2 separate regions of the Homo sapiens genome follow, and region 1 is linked to region 2. Evidence: fine-mapped expression QTL. Tissue or cell type: whole blood. Region 2 holds a variant in brackets; the other region holds the start of a gene. Each region is shown on its reference strand, or each on the opposite one. Region 1 holds the start of CEACAM21 (CEA cell adhesion molecule 21). Region 2 overlaps RIMS1 (regulating synaptic membrane exocytosis 1).

Evidence for each region. PIP is the estimated chance that this variant, and not a neighbour inherited with it, causes the effect.
Region 1: CEACAM21 starts here. The variant in region 2 is fine-mapped to the expression of CEACAM21 in whole blood (TOPMed, PIP above 0.99).

What each region holds. Positions count from the first base shown.
Region 1 is chr19:41,571,732-41,582,291 of GRCh38, forward strand. CEACAM21 (CEA cell adhesion molecule 21) reads left to right here and starts at 4,435. Exons shown (of 7, transcript NM_001098506.4): 1 at 4,435-4,607; 2 at 5,469-5,828; 3 at 7,622-7,897. The coding sequence starts at 4,544.
Region 2 is chr6:72,399,184-72,409,743 of GRCh38, forward strand. RIMS1 (regulating synaptic membrane exocytosis 1) reads left to right here. Exons shown (of 34, transcript NM_014989.7): 34 at 1,313-3,962. The coding sequence ends at 1,531. Among named protein-coding and RNA genes, the nearest start is that of KCNQ5, 220 kb to the right of the region's middle. The variant G/T (reference allele first, on the strand shown) is at 5,832.

The sequences.
Region 1 (10,560 bases), not on the chromosome of region 2:
CTGGCCCCTGGGAGCTGGGAGCTGACAGTGCCCTGCTGCCCCAGCCCTGGGCCTTCTCTGAACCTCAAGAACACTGGATGGCCCCCATTTAGGGAGTAGAGAGGAGAGGTCTTTTAAACATCCTCACCAGTCACCTCTCCACCTTTCAGACCCTGGGCAGAATCTGTTGCCCACTCTTGGATTTGATCTTTAAGTTACTGACTTTAAAGCATTTTGACACTTTTTTTTTTTTTTGGTAGTCAGAAGCTTTCCACCTCCTTGGGAAAAGTGATTCTCTACTCTATGTACAGGAATAACCAGTAGAAATAGAGAAAAAATGCATTAATATTCAGAAAGAAGATGATCTCTATGTGAACAAATGAAAGCTTAAAATCATCAGAGTCAACATAAAATCAACATTGCCAGTGCTAAAACTACAAAAGTGACATTAACGGTGAACTAGAAGAATAAAACAAGCATTACAGTTGCTGGTAAACCTAAATCACTTATTTTTTTAAAAGACCATTCTGGTATATTGCAATGATGACAGGAGTGCCCTTCAGTCAATATGATGCCTGTAATTTTTGTGACCTGGCAAGATATACTGTCCCTTCTCCTTTTAAATCTCAAATGCAAAATGAGAGGCAACTCCTGGGTCACCCCCTCCCAGAGCAAACTGCCTGCAAGCAGCCCCTGGAAGAGCAGAGGCCCTAGTTTCCCTGATCCTCAAGGCAGGAGCGATGGGAAGCTCCCTGTAAGCCGGGGGAGAGCTTTGTTCCCAGAATGTTCCTCCTCTTCCCAGAGGCACCAACCCCGATGCCCTGACACTTACCTTCTGCTCTCTCGCCCAATGTTCACTCAAATATTGAGTGCTTGGTGAGTCTGCAGAGCTCAGGAACTTCTGGGAGCCAAATCACCACCAGCTCCTCCAGAAAAGATACCTGTGCACACCCAAAACCACCCCACTGAGCCCTGCCTGGGGTCTGTACCACATCCAGCATGTGCACTGTGAGCATAGAATCCGGCCCTGAATTCATGACCACCCACCAACATGCCCCCAACTGAAACCAGCAAATTCCCACACATGGCAAGCACTGAGGCTTGGAGGTGCTTTCTCACGAGGTGGTTCTGCTTCCACCATGGGGTGGTTGTCACTGACACTGGAAGTTGCTCAGCACCTGATAGTGGTGCAGGACTCAGGGACCCTCAACATCAATCTGGTGAAGGCAGATGGGGCCCCTCCAGATCTTCTCCCACCTGCAGGTGCCCAGCTCAGTAAGACCCCAACCCTGGGAGGAGGATCCAGACCCCTGTGCCAGGTAGACCAAGCTTGAGGCCTCAGGCAATGAGAGAGAAGGAGATGGAGGTCTGACCAGGAGCTGCTCTTCCTTGAGAGCCCGGGTCCCTTCCTTGTGCAAAGGCTTGGCTTATGAACAGAATCCTCAATCTGTAGTGACAGTGCCTAAGAGGATGACATGGACTCCGGCCTGATGTGCAGCCGTCCCTGTCTAACCCCTCCCTGCTGCAGGACAGCACCAGCCCAGGAGAGGAATCCTCAGTTGGGGAGCCAGTAAGAACATGGAATACTCGGGGCCTCTTACCTTCCTCCAGTCCACAGCAGCAGCCACCGTTTGTGCCTAGGACACCCACCTGCTGGCCCTTCTGACCCTTACAGTCAGGCCTTCCAGATGCCACTCCTGACTCAAGGCCCAGCTACTTTCACCCTGCTGAGCCCTGCTCCTCCCAACCAGGGTCACTGCCTTGCTAAGCACCTCCTCCAGCTCCAGCTGACTGGTCACCCAACACCCAAACCCCAGAGGACAAACAAGAAAATAAACAGATATGAAGTCTGAAGGAGATGCAGGCTATGAAGACAAATAAAAGAGTAAGCATGAATATAACTCCACCAACAAAATTGTTTCCCAAAACAAAATCTTCTGTGCCCATGATCATGGAACTAATTGTCCCTCACTATGTAGGCAAGCACTTCCAGGGTCTCTCAATTATTTCATGGGTGTCAATATACACTGTAACATAGCAACTCAGAAAAGAAAGTGGGAATAATTTATCTACTTAGATTAAGGTCCTAAAAAGGTCTCCAGACTGCCAAAAAAGGAGAGCTGAACCACTCCTGCTTTGAGAACCATTGAACTACATCTTTTTTAAAAGTCACCCCAGAATGGCCAAAACAATCTGGAAAAAAAAATTGGAGGACTCACTTCCTAATTTGAAAACTTACTAAAACACTACAATCATTAAAACAGTGTGCTTCTGGCACAAGAATGCACATAGAGATCAATGGAATAGAATCAAGAGTCCAGAAATAAACCCTCACCATTACAGCCCATTGGTTTTTGACATGGGTGCCAAGATTCCTCAATGGGGAAAGAATGGTAGCCTCTTCATATTGTGCTGGAACAACTGGATAACCACATGCGAGATAGTGTAGTTAGACCCCTACCTCACAGCCCATACAAAAGTTAACTCAAAATGTTTCAAAAACCTAAATGGAATAGCAAAACTTATCAAACCATTAGAAGAACATATAGGAGTAAAACTTAATGATCTTGGATTGGGCAATGGTTTCTTCAATATGACATCAAGAGCATAAGTAACAAAATTAAAAATAGATAAGTGAACTTCATCAAAGTTAAAAATGTTTGTGCTTCAAAGAACACCATGAAGAAAGTGAGAAGACACAGAATATGAGAAAAATTTTGCAAATCATGTACCCCATAAGGGACTTGTATCTAAAATATATAAAGAACTATTACAACTGAATAATAAAAAGATAACCCATTTTTTTTAAACAGCAAATGATTTGAATAAATAGTTCTCTAAAAAATATTAAAATTGTCAGCAAATACATGAAAAAATGCTCAACTTCATCAGCCACCAGGGAAATGAAAATCAAAACTGCAATGAGCTATCACTTCACACCTACTAGAATGGCTATAAGTTTTAAAAAATATTAAATAGTAAGTGTTTACAAGAATGTAGAGAAAATGGAACCCTCGTATATTGCTGATGGGAATATAAAATAGCACAGCAAACTGGAAAACAGTTTGGCTGTTTCTCAAAAACTTAAACATAGAACTACCACATGACCCCATATTTATACTCCTATATGTACCCCCAAAGAAATGAACACAGAAACCCAAACAGATACTTCCAAGTGTAAGTTCATTGCAGCGGTTTTCACAATAGCAAAAATGTGGAAACCACCCACATGTCCATTAAGAGATGAATGAATTAAAATTGAGGTATAAACATATATTGGGATATTACTCAGCCATAAATAGGAAAGAAGCTGTAATATATGCTACGACGTGGATGAATCTTAAAAGTGTTACCCTAAGAGAAATAATCCAGAAAAAAATAATACACGTATATAATTCCTTATTATATGAGACATGTAAACTAGGCAAATTCACAGAGATTGATAGTATCAGAGGCTACCAGTGGGTGGGGCAGGGGGAAGTGGGGAGTTATTGATTAAAAGTATGAAGTTTCCATTTGGTATAATGAAGATTTTCTGGTAAAAAATTATGGTGATGGTTGTACAACATTGTGAATAGAATTAGTATCATTTAATTCTACACTTAAAATTGCTAATTCAGTACATTTATCTTATGTATTATACCATATCTAAAGAGATCTTTGGGAAACAAACACTCGCCCTGATCAGATAGTCCTCATACTCATGTACACACCCTTCCTGACCTTCTGTAAAAAGGGATACAAAGATTTAGGGACATGAGACAGTTCAGGCAACTGCAGATCCACAAAATATATGTATTTGCAAAGAGAATGAGAGTTAAGCTGGGGGCACAGACCCCAGACACGGAGAGGGTCCCCCTGAAACCTTCACCAAGGACAGCAGAACCCAGAGCCTCCCACCTCCTTCCATCAAAGTCCTCTCTTCCCAGGACACACAGGACACCTCCCTCCACACCTAGGAGCTGGGGATCCTCCCGAGACCTCCAGGCCTGGGTCTCTGTCCCTGGGTCAGAGGCCAGGCTGGTGACACTGAAGATAGCGGGTGGGTCCTTCCCAGCCATCACCCAGTGAGCCCCTTTCTAGCCCCCAGAGCCACCTCTGTCACTTTCCTGCTGGGCATCATTCTGCCTTCCTGGAGCACTGGAGAGCATGAGGAGACCCAGGGCCCAGCTGGTTTTGTGTGTCACAAAGGGAAATAATCTACCGGCTGTGACAGAACCAAGGCCAGAACACAGCAGAGGTCAGTACTGGGGAGAGTGGGTCGTCCTGTTATGAGGACCCCATCAGCGTTGCTTCTCAAAGTTTTGCCTAGGGAACCAAATATAGGCAAAAAGGAAGGAGAAAGGAGGGACAAGGGAGGCAGGACTGAGAGGGGAGGGGACAGAGAGACATTGTAGGCAGAGCCCCGCCCTTGCCCATAAACGGGAAGTGCTCCTGCCTGAGAGGAAGCTCAGCATAGAGGAAGGAAGGACAGCAGAGACAACAGTCACAGTAACCCTGTCTAGAGCGTTCCTGGAGCCCAAGCTCCTCTCCACAGAGGAGGACAGAGCAGGCAGCAGAGACCATGGGGCCCCCCTCAGCTTGTCCCCACAGAGAATGCATCCCCTGGCAGGGGCTCTTGCTCACAGGTGAGGGGAGGACTCCCTGGGAGTGGGTGGGAGGAGGGAGCACAGAGACTGGCTGGGGTCTCCTGGGGAGGATGGGGCTCTGAGAGGAGACAGAGGGCTTTTGTTAGAGACTCAGGGGAGAGAGCGTCTAAGGAGAACCAAAAAATCTAAGTGAACTGGAATTGCCAAGGGGCAAAACAATCTCAGTTGGTCCATGTTTTCAAGTTCATTGTCAGTGGCCACTACACTTTGAAAATGATAGTAAAACTATATCACAGTGACAATTTAAATAAAAACACCACCAGGGCATGAAACTCTGTCTTCATCTGCCAACCTCAGACATTAGCAAATAAACCCCAGGATATGGAAGGCCCTGGGAACGCTCATGAACTCATCCACAGGAGTCTGCAGCCTGTCCCAGGCACTGGGGTGCAACTAACATCACTCAAGTCCATGCCCTCACAGAGCTCACAATCTCATGGGGGGGAAGACAGACACCCAAAGAGATCTAGAATGTGAGGTCAGGTGCTGACAAGAGCCCTGGAGGGAACAGAGCTGGGAAAGGTCAGAAAGGGAAGACCCAGGGTCTCTAGAGGAGGCTTCACGAAAGAAGTCTCCCAGGGATTCCCTTGTGTGAGTAGGAACTGAAGGCAGTGGGGAGGGAACCATGCAGACCCCTGGGAAAGAGGGTTCACACAAGGAAATGCCAAGGTCAGAGGTACTGAAGGAATGAGGGTCATGCTGCTGACTTTGACCCAGTAGGACACACACACACACACACACCCTCTAAGGCTGAGGGGTGAAGAGACCTGCACCCAGGACCCCGTCTTTCCATGCCAATGCATAGGTCAAATATTGACTGATATTCTCTCCCTTTCCTAGCCTCACTTTTAACTTTCTGGAACGCACCCACCACTGCCTGGCTCTTTATTGCATCAGCGCCCTTTGAAGTTGCTGAAGGGGAGAATGTTCATCTCTCTGTGGTTTATCTGCCCGAGAATCTTTACAGCTATGGCTGGTACAAAGGGAAAACGGTGGAGCCCAACCAGCTAATCGCAGCATATGTAATAGACACTCACGTTAGGACTCCAGGGCCTGCATACAGCGGTCGAGAGACAATATCACCCAGTGGAGATCTGCATTTCCAGAACGTCACCCTAGAGGACACGGGATACTACAACCTACAAGTCACATACAGAAATTCTCAGATTGAACAGGCATCTCACCATCTCCGTGTATACGGTGAGTGATTCCTCCGTGCCTCTGGGTGTTGGGGGTCAGTTCTGCTTCACATACGCAGGATTGTCAGGCCTGGGCTGTGCCTGCATCCCCCTCTGCATTACGTCCCATGTTGGGGTTTGGGCATTTAGTGCAGGACACACCCAGGGGAGACAAACTATAACAGATCAGAATTCCTTTCCCTTATCCGGACTCCGTGGAAATTCCCTACAGCAAGAAGGATAGTCTGATGCGGGAGATGCAGCGGGGGAAAATCAGTCTCAGTCCAACCCCCCTTGGCCTCCTCCTCATAGACATGACCTGAGAAAGATCTTATAGGACTCAGTCAGGGCCTGGCCTGAGGATCCTCTGAGAGAAGCTCAGCCCTTGAAGCCCCTGCCCCAGGCCCCTGTCCCAAGATCCTGACTCCAGATGACCCTGGGGAGCCTGTGCCAGGGCTGGGTTGTGGCTTCCTGGGCAGGGCTGATTGTGAGCAAGGATTTACCAGCTGTCCCAGGGCCGTGGTTCCTAGAGCTGGTCACCAGGCAGGGCTCAGCCCCCAGAGCCCCATCTGGGCAAGGGCAGAGCCTCATCTTTCACCTGAGAGTCAGAGTGGAGAGGACAGACAAACAAACTTCCCAGGCCATTAAACTGGATGGGAAACTTAAAAGATGTCCCGGGAAGTGCACTGTCCTCAGGAGGAGGGAAAGCAGAGAAAAGACACTCTGGACCGCTCCTTCTCCACCAGGAATCAGGCCCAGAGAACTCTTTTTTTTTTTTTTTGGAGTAAAATAATAATAGATGATGTTTATTTGGAGCTATTCTGTGCCAAGCTTTAGGTCAGGTAATTGTAAATATTTTAATGTTAATTTACAGAGAGGATGGCAAGCCAGGGACCATTGACATGTACCCCATTTTATTAAAGAGAAATTGCATCAGCATCACACAGGCTGTCAGTGCTCAACGTCACACCACCGTGTGTCTGCAGCCCAGAATCTGGTCGTGGCCACCACCGTGGGGCATCTGTGGACCCCAGGACCAGATGTTGGTTCAGCTCCTTTCTTCTTGGGCATCCTCAGCTCAGAGAGGGAGATTCTGGTCTGAGGAATGACGGGCAAATGGAGAATTAGTCAGTTTTTACTTAGAACGAAATCACCTGTCTCAACTATCAGACTCAATGCCAGGATTGTCCAAGCCTCTCCCATCAGATCCACATTCCTTCCCTCACTGGACGTGAAATCATGAATTTCTTGATTTGTTGATGTCACTCCCATGGGAGGATGAAGGAAAGGACTCAGCTTTCTCTTCCCACTACACCCTGTACCTGCACAAGGCCCAACTGAGACACACACTCAGTAGTTCTCTGATGAAGGAGGGAGGGAATTAATGAAAAAAGAAAGGAATAATCATAACCTCTTTACAGACTGGGTCCTGGATGTAGGATCCTAGGAGGAGCTGGCCACACCTCTTCCTTGTCCCTTAGGGGCTGAGACCCATGTTCCATTTCTCTGACTGCCTGCTCCTAAAGCCACCCCAGGTATTGCATCTCATGTGACTCTGGGGCCGCTCATCTGTGGGAGGGTTTTCAGGGCTCCCTGGTCCTGGTCTGAGGCAGCTGGGTCCTCCTGGTCCCTGGGGTCTCTGAGGTCACTGTAGTCCCTACTGCTCGCTGCTATGGGTGTCTCTGGTTCTCTCTGCTCCTCCCTGTCCTTCATCTTTCTCCTTTATTCACAGGAGAATGTTCTAAATTTGACTCTGAGATCTCTGAGGATGCAGCATGGCCCCAAGACACTTTCTGTTGGTCACTCTATCCACAGAGTCAGTGGCTCAGCCCTCCATCCAAGCCAGCAGCACCACAGTCACAGAGAAGGGCTCCGTGGTCCTGACCTGCCACACAAATAACACTGGAACCTCTTTCCAGTGGATTTTCAACAACCAGCGTCTGCAGGTCACGAAGAGGATGAAGCTGTCCTGGTTTAACCATGTGCTCACCATAGACCCCATCAGGCAGGAGGACGCTGGGGAGTATCAGTGTGAGGTCTCCAACCCAGTCAGCTCCAACAGGAGCGACCCCCTCAAGCTGACTGTAAAATGTGAGTGACCCTCGGCCCCTCTCACTCCTTTCCTTGTATATTTTCCTAGGAGGGAGGGGGGGTGTAAAATGATACACGGAATGAGAAGGATGAGATTCCTTCAGAGCCTGGGGAGCAATGTGGGTAAGAACTCAGGGATTAGACTCATCCAGTTATCATCCTGGTTACAATAGGTACCAGGTATTTGACCTTGGGCAAGACACTCAACCTCCTGGGCCTCAGTTTCCTCATCTGTAGAATTGTTACAAACACCTGGACCTCAGGGTGGTTGTGAGGATATTTATTCAGAGATTAATGCGATTAAAGCCCTTAACAAGGTCATGCACAGAGCCAGGGCTCAATCAGTGCTATCAATATCGACTGGTATTATTTTTATGAACTTTGTTGTTATTAGCTGTTAAGTTGAGCAGACTTTGGTTACATTTTTGTTGTATCACTTTCACTTACCAGTTCTGTAATCTTAATTGAAGTACTGAATCTTAATTGAAGTACTGAATCTTAATTGAAGTACTGAATTGAAGTACTTCAATCTTAATTGAAGTACTGAAACTATAAGTTTCAGATTCTAAATTGGCAGATGGGATTCCACCCTGTTTGGAAAAACTCAAACTGTGTTTTTCCTCTGCTCTCACTCCACAATAACAATCATCAACACAGACACACTTCTGTGACCAAATGTGATGGGGGGGGGTTTCTCCCACACACCCAGCAGCCAATCAGTTCTGCACCGTACATCAGCTAGGTGTCCTCCAATTCCATCCTGACACTATCTACCTGGACATATCAGCAGAGGGCTCAGTCCCACAAAATTGCCACCACCTTCCCACCAGTCACAAGTCTGGGCCTCCAGAGCTTCTTATGACTGGCTTCACATTGAGGTTTCCATGACTCCCTGTTTGGGTTGGATTAGTTTGCTCAAACAGCTCTCAGGACTCAGGGAAACACATACTTAGGCTTACCGGTTTGTAATAAAGGACTTTACAAAGGATGCAGATGAAGAGATGCACAGAGCATGGCATGTGGGAAGGGGTGTGGAGCTTCCATGCCCTCCCCAGATGCACCACACTCCAGAAACTTCCATGGGTTCAGCTCTTCAAACCCAGTCCTTTTGGGGTTCATGACATAGATATGATTGATTTAATCATTGGCCATTAATTGATTCAATCATTGGCCATTAATTGATTCATTGGTCATTGGTGATTAATTCAAACTCCAGGTCCCTCCCCAGGGATTAGGGGTGAGGCTGAAAGTCCCAACCCTCTAATCCTACCTGGGTCAGTGACCAGCCTCATTCTGAAGTTGCCTAGGGGCTGCCAGTCATCAGTCAATTATTAGCTTGAAAAAGACATCACTTTGAAGATTCTAAGGACTTTAGAGTCACATACCAGAAAATGGGTGTATTAGTCTGTTGGGAGCAAGCCCCCCAAAATCTGGCCATAAACTGGCCCCAAAACTGGTCATAAACAAAATCTCTGCAGCACTGTAACATGTTCATAATGGCCCTAATGCCCAAGCTGGAAGGTTATGGGTTTACAGGAATGAGGGCAAGGAATACCTGTCCCACCCAGGGTGGAAAACCGCTTAAAGGCGTTCTTAAGCCACAAACAATAGCATGAGCAATCTGCATCTTAAGGGCGTGTTCCTGTTGCAGTTAACTAGCCCAACCTATTCCTTTAATTCGGCCCATCCCTTGGTTTCCCATAAGGGATACTTTTAGTTAATTTAATATCTATAGAAACAATGCTAATGACTGGTTTGCTGTTATTAAATATGTGGGTAAATCTCTGTTTGGGGCTCTCAGCTCTGAAGCCTGTGAGAACCCTGATTTCCCACTTCACACCTCTATATTTCTATGTGTGTCTTTAATTCCTCTAGCACTGCTGGGTTAGGATCTCCGCGACCGAGCTGGTCTTGGCTGCTGATAAAGACATACCTGAGACTGGGTAATTTTTTTAAAAATGAGGTTTAATTGACTTACAGTTCCACATAGCTGGGGAGGCCTTGAAATCATGGCAGAAGGCAAAAGGCATGTCTTACATGGCGGCAGGCAAGAGGGCATGTGTAGAGGAACTCCCCTTTCTAAAACCATCAGATCTTGTGAGACTTATTCACTATCATGAGAACAGCATGGGAAGAATCCACCCCCATGATTCAATTACCTCCCACTGGGTCCTTCCCCCAACACGTGGGGATTATTAAAATTCAAGGTGATATTTGGGTGAAGAAGAGCCAAACCATGTCATTCCACCCGACCCCTCCCAAATCTCATGTCCTCACATTTCAAAACTAATCATGCCTTCCAACAGTTCCCCAAAGTCTTAACTCATTCCAGCATTAACCCAAAAGTCCAAGTCCAAAGTTTCATCTGAGACAAGGCAAGTCCCTTCCACCTATAAGCCTGTAAAATCAAAAGCAAGCTTAGTTACTTCCTAGATATAATGGGTGTACAGGCACTGGGTAAATACAACCATTCCAAATGGGAGAAACTGGCCAAAACAAAGGGGCTACAGGCCCCATGCAAGCCCAAAATCCAGCAGGGCAGCCAAATCTTAATGCTCTGAAATGATCTCCTTTGTATCCATGTCTCACATCCAGGTCACACTGATGCAAGAGCTGAACTCCCATAGCCTTGGGCTCCACCCCTGTGGCTTTGCAGGGTACAG
Region 2 (10,560 bases):
TGGTAAAGATAAATGTAGGATAATATTCTTGAGTAGACAAAATTCAAATGGTTAGTTTATAATATAAATAATATATAATATCAAAAATATTTGGTGGGTCTAATAGAGAACAATTTTATTTTATCTCTCTCTCTTCTTGTCTTTTCTCTCTCTATCCTCTCCTTCTAGCTTTGCCCTGTTCCCAGCCCTCCTCACTCCTCACTAGATAGATAGATGATAAATAGATAGATAGAGATATGTCCTCACTAGATAGATAGATGATAGATAGATACAGATATAGCAAACAAAACAATGTTAATAATAGTTGGTTGAGCATTGCTATATACCAAACATGGGGTACAAAGAGGAAGAGGGAGAGGAAAAGAGAAGTGTGCAGACACCAGCAAATATTGAGCCCTGGTGGAGTACCAGATGCATTTCTAGGTGCTTATATACATTATTTAAATTTTGTAACTAACATGTGCAATAAGTATCATTATCCCCATTTTAAAGATTATGTCTGAGATTCAAGAGGTAAAGTAATTTCACAAAATTACTCAGTAAATTTTAAAGACATGATTCACCACCAACTCTGCTTGTGTAAAACAGGTGAATGAGTTCAGTTGAGAACCTTTACAGACGACTGAAGTATTAGAAAATAGAACCTGGGAGTATGTGAAATGGAAGGCTTGTCTGACACTAGTAGCCAATAGAAGTTGACCTAGATTGTGGTAATTTTTAATGATCTAATTGAAATATTAATCATCTAAATCAAAATTGGCAGGCAAGTCCTCAAAAGGTACCAGCTCACAATTATTTTTTGACCTACCCCTTCACTAAAAAGACCATAATACGAAAGAAATCAAATGAATACTCTCATTCTTTGTACATACTTTCTGGTACATACATTCCATGGTATACTGAGTTGGATTGCTCATCTTGCCCTCCTAAATTGCACAAATTTTAATTTTTAGATTTTTATGGTCCTGTACATCGCTAATTAGATAGTAGTTACACAAGAAAGGTGTTGCATTCATATAAAAATACTCTTATGTATTTATTTCTTTAACATGGCTTATGTAGCTAATACTCCTCATTGACTAGGAACACACAATCCTTCATTCCATCAGACTAAAATTATTGTGAAGTGTCTATGAGCACCTTAAGGTTAGTGTATCTTCTTATCTGTGCCTTCTCCTTGGTGATAGTTGTATTCATTATTCTTTTCCTCTGCTTCACTGACTGGCCCACTTTTACAGCATAGTTGCTTTGAGCCCTTCGAATGTGAAGCAGAGAGAAGTCCAGGTAATGTTGCATTTCTCTATCTCTGCAGGTGATTGTCTGGGGAGACTATGGCAGAATGGACCACAAATGCTTTATGGGTGTGGCTCAGATCTTGTTGGAAGAACTCGACCTGTCCAGCATGGTGATCGGATGGTACAAATTGTTCCCACCGTCCTCACTGGTGGATCCCACACTCACTCCCCTCACCCGGCGGGCTTCCCAGTCATCTCTGGAAAGTTCAACTGGGCCTCCCTGTATTCGATCATAGTGAACTCATACCAGAGTCATTCCAATAAAACTCTACTTTTCAGGATAATAATCTGAACCAGATATTTCATGATCGAAAGCATTGTTGGAGACAGACAATCAACTTGTGTTTTGCCTGTAGTAGTTTTTCAATAATATGTCCCAATTGTTATTTAAAACATGGCTTCATATGACAGAACAAGGCAATCTATCAAATTTACAGGAAGAATCAACATGCTGGTGAGAGTCACTGATGCTTCTAACAAATAGAAAAAGAGGAAACTTTAAATCCACGCATACACGTACACACACACATGCACACACACACACACCAAATTGAACAAACTGGAAACTCTCACTCTGTGAAAAGTTGTATTCTACACATTTCTGCACAGACCACAAGCAGTGTTATTTCCCTGATGTTTGAGTTGTTTTGTTCTTTTGTGTGTTTTGTTTATTTGTGTGTTGTTTGTTGGTTTTCGTTTCTTGAGTTTTTGTTTTGTTTTCACCACATCTGTTATTTCCACTAGTTTTTTTTTGGCTGTGTCATGACAGGCCTCATGATGCTAACAGAGATTCTTCCCTTCTTTTTTCCAAAAGCACCAAAAAAAAGGGCTGAAGTAGTCTCTGTAGCATCTCCCCAAAGTGTTAAACAGCTACATAAGGTGAAGCCAAGGAAGGGTTTCACTAGCTTTCATTTTATAATTATTTAAAGTCTTATGTGTGGATACCCAAGAGACAAAAAGTTATCTTCCAAAATAAATAATCACAGAAGTACTTTTTTAATGAAGAGCCTATCTGTTTGCATTCTAGAAAATTAATTTATGGTTTCCATTGTTTTGCATGGAAGACTTTTAAAGAAGTCAATCTGCAACTAATGCTGGGGACTAAAACTAACTGCATAATTGTACTTTGAAAACACTCCTTGTAATGCCTTTTTCTTCCTGATATTAAAAAAATGCTCATGTGTATAAACCATACTTTGACTTCCCAAAAATGGTGACTAGGAATGGATTTGAGCCTAAGACACTTTGAGCTATGCCCAGGCTTCTCAGCCATACCTCAGTGTAGACACATCCATCTGCCCTGGAAAGAGCATGGTATGAGCTGTTCAATATTCCACTGGAAATTCCAGTTGAAATATTCTGCACTAAACTATTGTTTTTATTGAATTTTAGTTTACATTTCTTTGAGATTGATGCAAGCACAAAGCTTGATTTTTTAATGCAAAGTATCTTACTTTTTGGGGGGAAAATAAACAAAATGAACTTTCAATTTGCATTTTCATTTAGTTTCTCTTGGCCTTGAATTTCCCTTGTGACATTCTGTACATGTGCTACAAACTGCAGTCTCTGCAGGTGCATTGATATGTTCTCCCTCCTTTTATGAGTCACTCCACTTTTGTGATTACACAAATAGAGCAGCATGACTTGGAACTGTTCAGAGCTGCATGCACATTTTGTAAAAAAAAAAAATTTTAAAAAGAAAAGAAACAAAAGGTTATTTAATAATGTATGTTAGTTCCACATAGGCCAGCTTGTATGTTGCATGTACTTGTACAGTTTGCTTGTTAATTACTATACCGAAATAACCAAGAAATCTAAGCCATCCACTTTTGTTATAGACATTTTGCAGGTTTTAGCCAGACTCAGTCTCTGGGTCTGTGGTGAAATGTCTATAGATGGACTTTATTTTTTACCCTCCGGAAAACGTGATGTAGTACGGACCAAATTCCTTCTAATAAATATTTTGGTGTAGATTCCTACTGTGGGGCTGTAACACATGTAGACACTGTGTACACACTAGGTTTTAATTCATAGACATACTGCCTGCACCAAGTGAATTATTTATTATTATTTACACATGCCAGAATTATCTGCCCATCATTCCACAGGGCACAGATTGACCACTGCTCACCATGCTGAGTAGGAGGAACTGAAGCATTGGTGCACTTCTACTAGATTCCGTTCTGTCTTAGTGGCCAACAATCAACTGATTATAATTGGGTAGTATCTTTCTATTTTGACCACTTGTCTTAACACTCCCCTGTGCTTTTAAATGAAATTCCAATTCATGTATGTAAACATGTTTAATAAAATTTACTTTTCATGTCAGTCAGTAGCCATATGTGTTCTATGTCTTGCCAGATTTCCATTGTGGGTTCTATGGTGCAAAATGGGAGCCAGGCCATGGGAAGGGGAGGCTGGGGTTTGTTGTCTGCTGCGGGCATTTGACTTGACTTGTCACTGCACTATATTATGTCTTAATCGATGGCCCAAAGGGTACTTTGCATCACATACAAGTTTTCACTTCGTCAGCCTGTCTAAGTGAGCACATGACTATACTTCTGAAAAGTGGCATTATTAAAAATAATAAATCTCAGTAAGAATCAAATGGAAGGTTGTTTTCTGCTGCTGTTTGAATGTGCTAATAAAAGAGACAACTCTATTGTCCAATTGCCAAATTATTTCAAGTTACGTGACATATCAAAAAATTGATTCCTGCGTCTCTCGTCATAGTATATTTCCTCTTTCCATCTTTTTCTTCTGAACCCATGACTAATTTATATAACTTTGGTTTAGAGGAGACCAATTTAACAAAAAATAAGCACTACATTTACACTGAATTATCTTTAATAGAATCTTAGATAATAAAAGTATCTTCAAATATAGATAGATATCCAAAATAATATATTCAAAGAGACATTATTAACTTTTTAGGTTATTTTATTATTTTTTCTTACCTGAAAGTGTGCTCATGTATTTAATAATCATCGCCTCTCATGAAACACTTGGTAAGCACTACTTTCATCTTGCATTGTAGTAAAATAACTTTTGTGATCTAGTCTTGTCTTTCTAAGAGCTCTTAACTTTTTATAGACCACGCTGGCTTTAACTTGTAAAGCAAAGTAAACACAGTTACATCAACATAAAATTTGAGGCAATAAAGAGTTTGGAGACATGAATGCATCAGTTATTTATAGTTTTTAAACAGTTGACTGAATTTTACCCTATTAAATCATCCATTTGTTTGGTCTACAAGACACAAGATTATCTGTTAGGCTGGGTCAGTAAGAGGCAAAAACAACTGGTCAGTTCAATTTAAAACAGTCAGATTTAAAGCTGTTTGATGCGCGTGCATTAAGAAAGCTCAGAGCTGGGTGAGGCCAGGAGAAAAGTCTGCCACTGAAACAGGTGATGAGAGTGGGCTTCAGAATTATTGTCTAGACAGAAGGAGAAGAGCAGTAATCTTGCTTCAAACCATATAAAGCTACCCGGTGTTGGGATTTCAGAGCCTACAGTCATGGGAGGAAGGAACCTGAGGAAAGGCAATTTTGCTAAGTCTTCATGGTTTCTTGCTGACTCTGACAACTTATTTCTTGAAATCCCAGCCCCATATGTATCCCAGATAATATATTATCTGATTATACTTAACCAACATTATTAAGAATTTTGTTAAGTACTAGGTATTAAGTACTTAGAATATAAAGTAGCCCTGTATTAAAGTAGCTCCCTGTGTATTGAAAGAGATCATTATATATATATAAAGAAATAATTATGATAGCATACAGTAAATCCTCAATGTCATTAAGTTCTGAGAAACTGTGACTTTAAGTAAAATGACATATTAAAAAAACTTTTTTTTTTCCTCTGTCAATGTTATCGAGGACCTGCTGTACATTGTTTCACTTAAAATCACAGTTTCCAAGATCAGGTGATTAAGTTAGTCCAAGTTAGGACTTACTGTATTTGATTTGTATACAAAGGCTATGGGATTATATTTACTCCCTCACAACAGTCCTATGAGGTAAGTATAGGACCCCTATTTCTCATAGGAGGCTCTGTAGCTTAGACAAGTGAAGCAACAAGCTAAGGTCACATATGCTGAGAGATGAACCAAAGTCTGACCAACTCGGGATCCTGCCATGCTAAGTGCTCTTTGTCCTCTACTAACTGCTGACAGTTAAGCTACATATTAAAGAATGAAGAGTTCACGAGGTGAGAAAAAATCCTAAGCTATTTCTCTGTGACGAGGCAGCTCCTGGCCAGCTTGGTCTCCCACAAGTTGCCTGAACGACTCTGCCTTACGATGGGGGTGGGGGATAGGAAAAGGAGGCAGGTGGGCTCTTCTCCATTCCCTGAAACCTCTTTGTAAGCCTCTCTCTCTCTCTCTCTGTCTCTCTCTCTCTCTCTCTTCCTCCCTCTCCCTCTCCCTGCTCTCTCTCCCCCCTCCCCTGACCACTCACCATTTGCACTATCAAACTTCATGAATACATAATATGCAGACTTCAGGAACAGTTTGAGTAAAGGAGATAGAACAAA[G/T]AATTATTCTTTAAATTTTCAAAAGTAGTTTTGTCTACCCTGCCTCCTCCGATTACCCCACCTGCTGCTCATTAATAACCCCAGTCTAGGTTGTCAGACCCAATAAAACAGGGGTCTCCAATCCCTGGGCCACGGACTGGTACTGGTCTGTGGCCTGTTAGGAACTGGGCCACACAGCCAGAGGTGAGCCAGGCAAGTGAGCTCTGCCTCCTGTCAGTTGGCAGCAGCAATAGATTCTCATAGGTGTGTGAACCCTGTTATGAACTGTACATGGGAGGGGTCTAGGTAGCGTGCTCCTTATGAGATTCTAATGCCTGATGATCTGTCACTGTCTCCCATCACCCCTAGATGGGACCATCTAGTTGCAGGAAAACAAGCTCAGGGCTTCACTGATTCTACATTATGGTGAGTTATATAATTATTTCATTACATATTATAATGTCATAATAGAAATAAAGTGCACAATAAATGTAACGCACTTGAATCATCCTGAAGCCATTCTCCCCCTGGGTCTATGGAAAAAACTGTCTTCCACAAAACCAGCCGCTGGTGCCAAAAAGGTTGGTGACTGCTGCTCTATAGCTCTTACCACAGAACTCCTTTAATTAAAGTATATACCTATCTTATCACATACTTGGTGGTCAATTGGTTTTTGTAAATGTAAATGTATTAGTTGGATTAAAAAAACCCACAATTGTCCCATCATCCCAGCAGAATCTCCTTTGGATCATCTTGATCCATGCCTAATGCTGAACAAATATCTCTGACCAGAAAAATGAAATACCTTGATAGACAGGCTTGTGTCAAGAGTCCAGCCCTGGATCTAGGAAATCCAGGCAGTTGCACCCAAACCACATAGAAAAGTTAGGGTAGTTCTCCCAAGGCAATATGGATGCTACTAGAAAAAAGAGAATGCTTCTGCCTTAGAGAAGGACATGTTGGGAAAGTTGTGTCTGCTCTAGATCCATTTTTTCTCTTCTCTCAAGACCTAGGAAAGGTGGGACAAAAATTCTCAAGATTGGCCACATCCAACCACACTCACTCTGATGACACTCATCTTCTCCTCTCTTCCAAATTATGGAGCCACTCATCTGGTGCCTTAAATATTTCTAAGACTCCAGACTGACATTTTGAGGAATATGGCATTATAATTATATCTATAGCACGCAGGAAGACATACGGCTAACATAAAATACACTAAAACATATCTGTTAAATGGAATAATAATAACACCTACCTCATACAATTATTTTGAGGATTAAAGTAAATAGTAAATATTACATTTTTAGGACAAAACCTGAATTCATAGTAAGTGGCTTAATAAATGTTAGCACCTATAACCATTATGCATAAACCTAACTTTGTGAAGTCTAAGTTAACCTTGTGAAGACTTCATATGAACACAAAACTCTTGGACAAATCTGGCCTTCATTTCCTGATCATTTATCTGATCCACCACCACTGATACAATGTCCCTTTCCAGTACTGGTAGATAAAAACAGAGGAGGATTTGTCGTCTGTTCAGGTGATAGGAGTGCTAATTTCAATAGCCCATATCACATAATGCTGTCTTCAGGCCATTCTGTGCATCTTTGTCTTCAGGCCATTCTGTGCATCTTCAGTAGGGCTGGTTGTTCCTTCCTTTTCTAGACCAACCTTTGCATTTAGTGAGCACCACCTCTTAGAAGCAGACAGAGAACACCCTCTCTGACCCAGCCCAACAGAACGAGTCTAGCTTTAGAAAATGTGCTTTCTAACCACCATTTTCAGTGCCATTTCCTGGATGATTTCATTAGCAAGCCTCACAATCTTTCTGTTCCAGAAATTCTCAGCCTCTCAAGGTTCTCTAACTGCCTTCTGCAATGCAAGGTTCCCAACCTATTCTCTACCTGCAAATCTGCTCCCATATCACTGAATTCTCCCCAATTTCTCCAGGAGCAGAGGAACTGAGTCGTTTCACTGAAATTACCACCTTTTTCTTTCTCCTTTTCTGTATAGTCAGTCTAGGTTCTCTCTTCAGATGCTGGATCATCTCTTTCATCCTCCTTTGCATGTACTTTAATTCTATCACTCCTTTCCCTATTTATGTCCCGCAACATGCAACTGCGGCTTTTCTGATTATGTGTGTTATCTTATCTATTCATTCCTCTGCATTTTCCAAGTTCTATCAATACATAAAATCATCAGAAACCACACGCCTACATCACTCTAGCTTGTTCCTGCCATCATGTTCACTCCACCCTAAATTCATGTTTTTTCCTAATGTTTTGCCTTTGGTTTTCATTGAGTGTTTATTAAAGATGCTTCTTGCATTGGCTATGCGTTTCTGTCAACTATTTTTTCCAGTATGTCACTGAATACTTTTTGCAAATATTTTTGTATGATTGTTTTACATTTTATTATTTAGTGTCTGCAAAAAGAATTTTTTTCTACTGAGTGGTTGTGTTTTCTTCTACTATAGAGTTCTTTTTTAAGACAAAATATACTATTCTTTATTTTTATCATAGAACAGGCATTTTCAGTCTGTTAAAAAGTATGGAATGGGATCAAGTGTAATTTTAGAGGCTTCTCATGTTTCTTTTTTTATTCCAACTTTTATTACAAGTTAAAGGGTACATGTGCAGGTTTATTACATGGATAAACTGCATGACACTGAGGCTTGAGGTGTCAGCAATCTCATTACCCAGGCTGTAAACATAGCACCCAACAAATGGCTTTTCAGCCCATGGCCCCTCCCTCCCCTCACTAGTGATCTCAGTGTCTATTGTTCCCATCTTTATGTTCATGTGTATTCAGTGTTTAGTTCCCACTTATAAGCGAGAACATGCAGTATTTGGTTTTCTGTTCTTGCCTTAGGTCACTTAGGATAATGGCTTCCAGCTCCATCCATATTGCTGCAAAGAGCATGATTTCATTCTGTTTTATGGCTGCATAGTATTCCATCATGGTGTATATGTACCACATTTTCTTTATCCAATCCACTGCTGTTGGGCACTTAGGTTGATTCCATTGTCCTTGCTATTTTGAATAGTGCTGCAATGAACATATGGGTGGATGTGTCTGTTTTGATAGAATGAATTCTTTTCCCTTGGGTATATACCGAGGAGTGGGATTGCTTCTACCATAGGGCACTTAACTTTTCATATGCTTTGGTTCCCTTTGGTGCCTGGTGATACCTATAGACTCCTTCTCAGAATAATGAAGTTAAACTCCTTTAAAAAGTACATAGGAGGAAAATGAAGCCAATTATATTGAAAGAGTTAAAAACATTTTAACAACAAATTTTTGGTCTGGCGTGGTGGCTCACACCTGTAATCCCAACACTTAGGGAGGCTGAAGCGCGCGGATACTTGAGCCCAGGAGTTTTGAGAGACCAGCCTGGGCAATATGGCAAAAACCCATCTCTACAAAAAAAATAAATAAATAAAAATTTTAAAAAAAGCCAGGCACGATGGCACACACCTGTAGTCCTAGCTACTTGAGAGGCTGAGGCTTGCAGATTGATTGAGCCTGGGAGGGAGAGGCTGCAGTGAGCCTTTGTCACACCACTGCACTCCAGTCTGAGTGACAGTGAGACCCTGTCTCAAAAAACAAAATAAAACAAAAATTTGTCATCTAGCAATACATATGACTTCTTTACTGAGGTATTAAAAGAAATCTAGTGACAGGTCCAATAACTACAGTGTTTTTGAAGCTGTGATGAGCATAAATACTAGTTGATATTATGAATATGTGTGATTCTGTACTGACAGCAAGGTCACAGGTACTACTATGCTATTGTGGTTTCTTACCTACAGTGATAAATGAAAGAAATTTTAAATTACAATTAGAGATTAGAAAAAAGAAAAGATGCACTTTTTTCTCTTTTAGTTCACAGACTTCCTGAACTCCTGCCTGGGACTATTGCAGGAATAGTATAATAACCCATTATACGAGTTTAATTTACCCTGTCTCTCCAGGACTTTGTAAAACAATTATACTCTCACATCAATCATAAAAGAATTCACAGCTAGTATGTATTTTTTCTTTTTATGATTTATTCCAATAATGTTATTATGAAACAGCTTCTTGAAACTCTTTGTAAATCCCTTTGAAATAATTCAAGTTAAAAATAATGACATAAACAAGTAGCTTAGTGTATGGCACAGGGACTGTACACAAACACAAGATGGTAGAATGAATGCACAACACAGAAACTGAGGACTCCACATTGTTCTGGATCACTGCTGTTCAGTCTACAAAAACTCAATCTCCTTTTCATAAATCCCAAAGTTTCACCTCCAACTCCCAAAACAGCTAGTTATAATGCTAAAGGGATCCATAGCTATTTCTTCAGTTGAGAATCAAAATAAAGTCTATGATTTTGTTGCCCCTAGCCAGGATTTTCTTTCATGCTAGCTTGTATTCTAAAAACAACACTTTTGTTTTGTGTGGCTTCTGCTTTTCTTTGGTCTAATTTCACCATCTGACATAGTTTGGATGTCCCCTCCAAATCTCATGTTGAGATGTAATCCCCAGTGTAGGAGGTGGGGCCTGCAGGGAGCTGCTTGGGTCATGGGGATGGATCCCTCCTGGCTTAGTGACGTCCCCACCACAAAGAGTGAGTTCTCAGGAGATCTGGTCCTTTAAAAGTGTGGGGCACCTCCCCCTGCCCTTGCTCCTGTTTTCCCCATACGAAGTACCAGCTCCCACTTTGCCTCCCACCATGAGTAAAAGCTCCCTGAGTCCT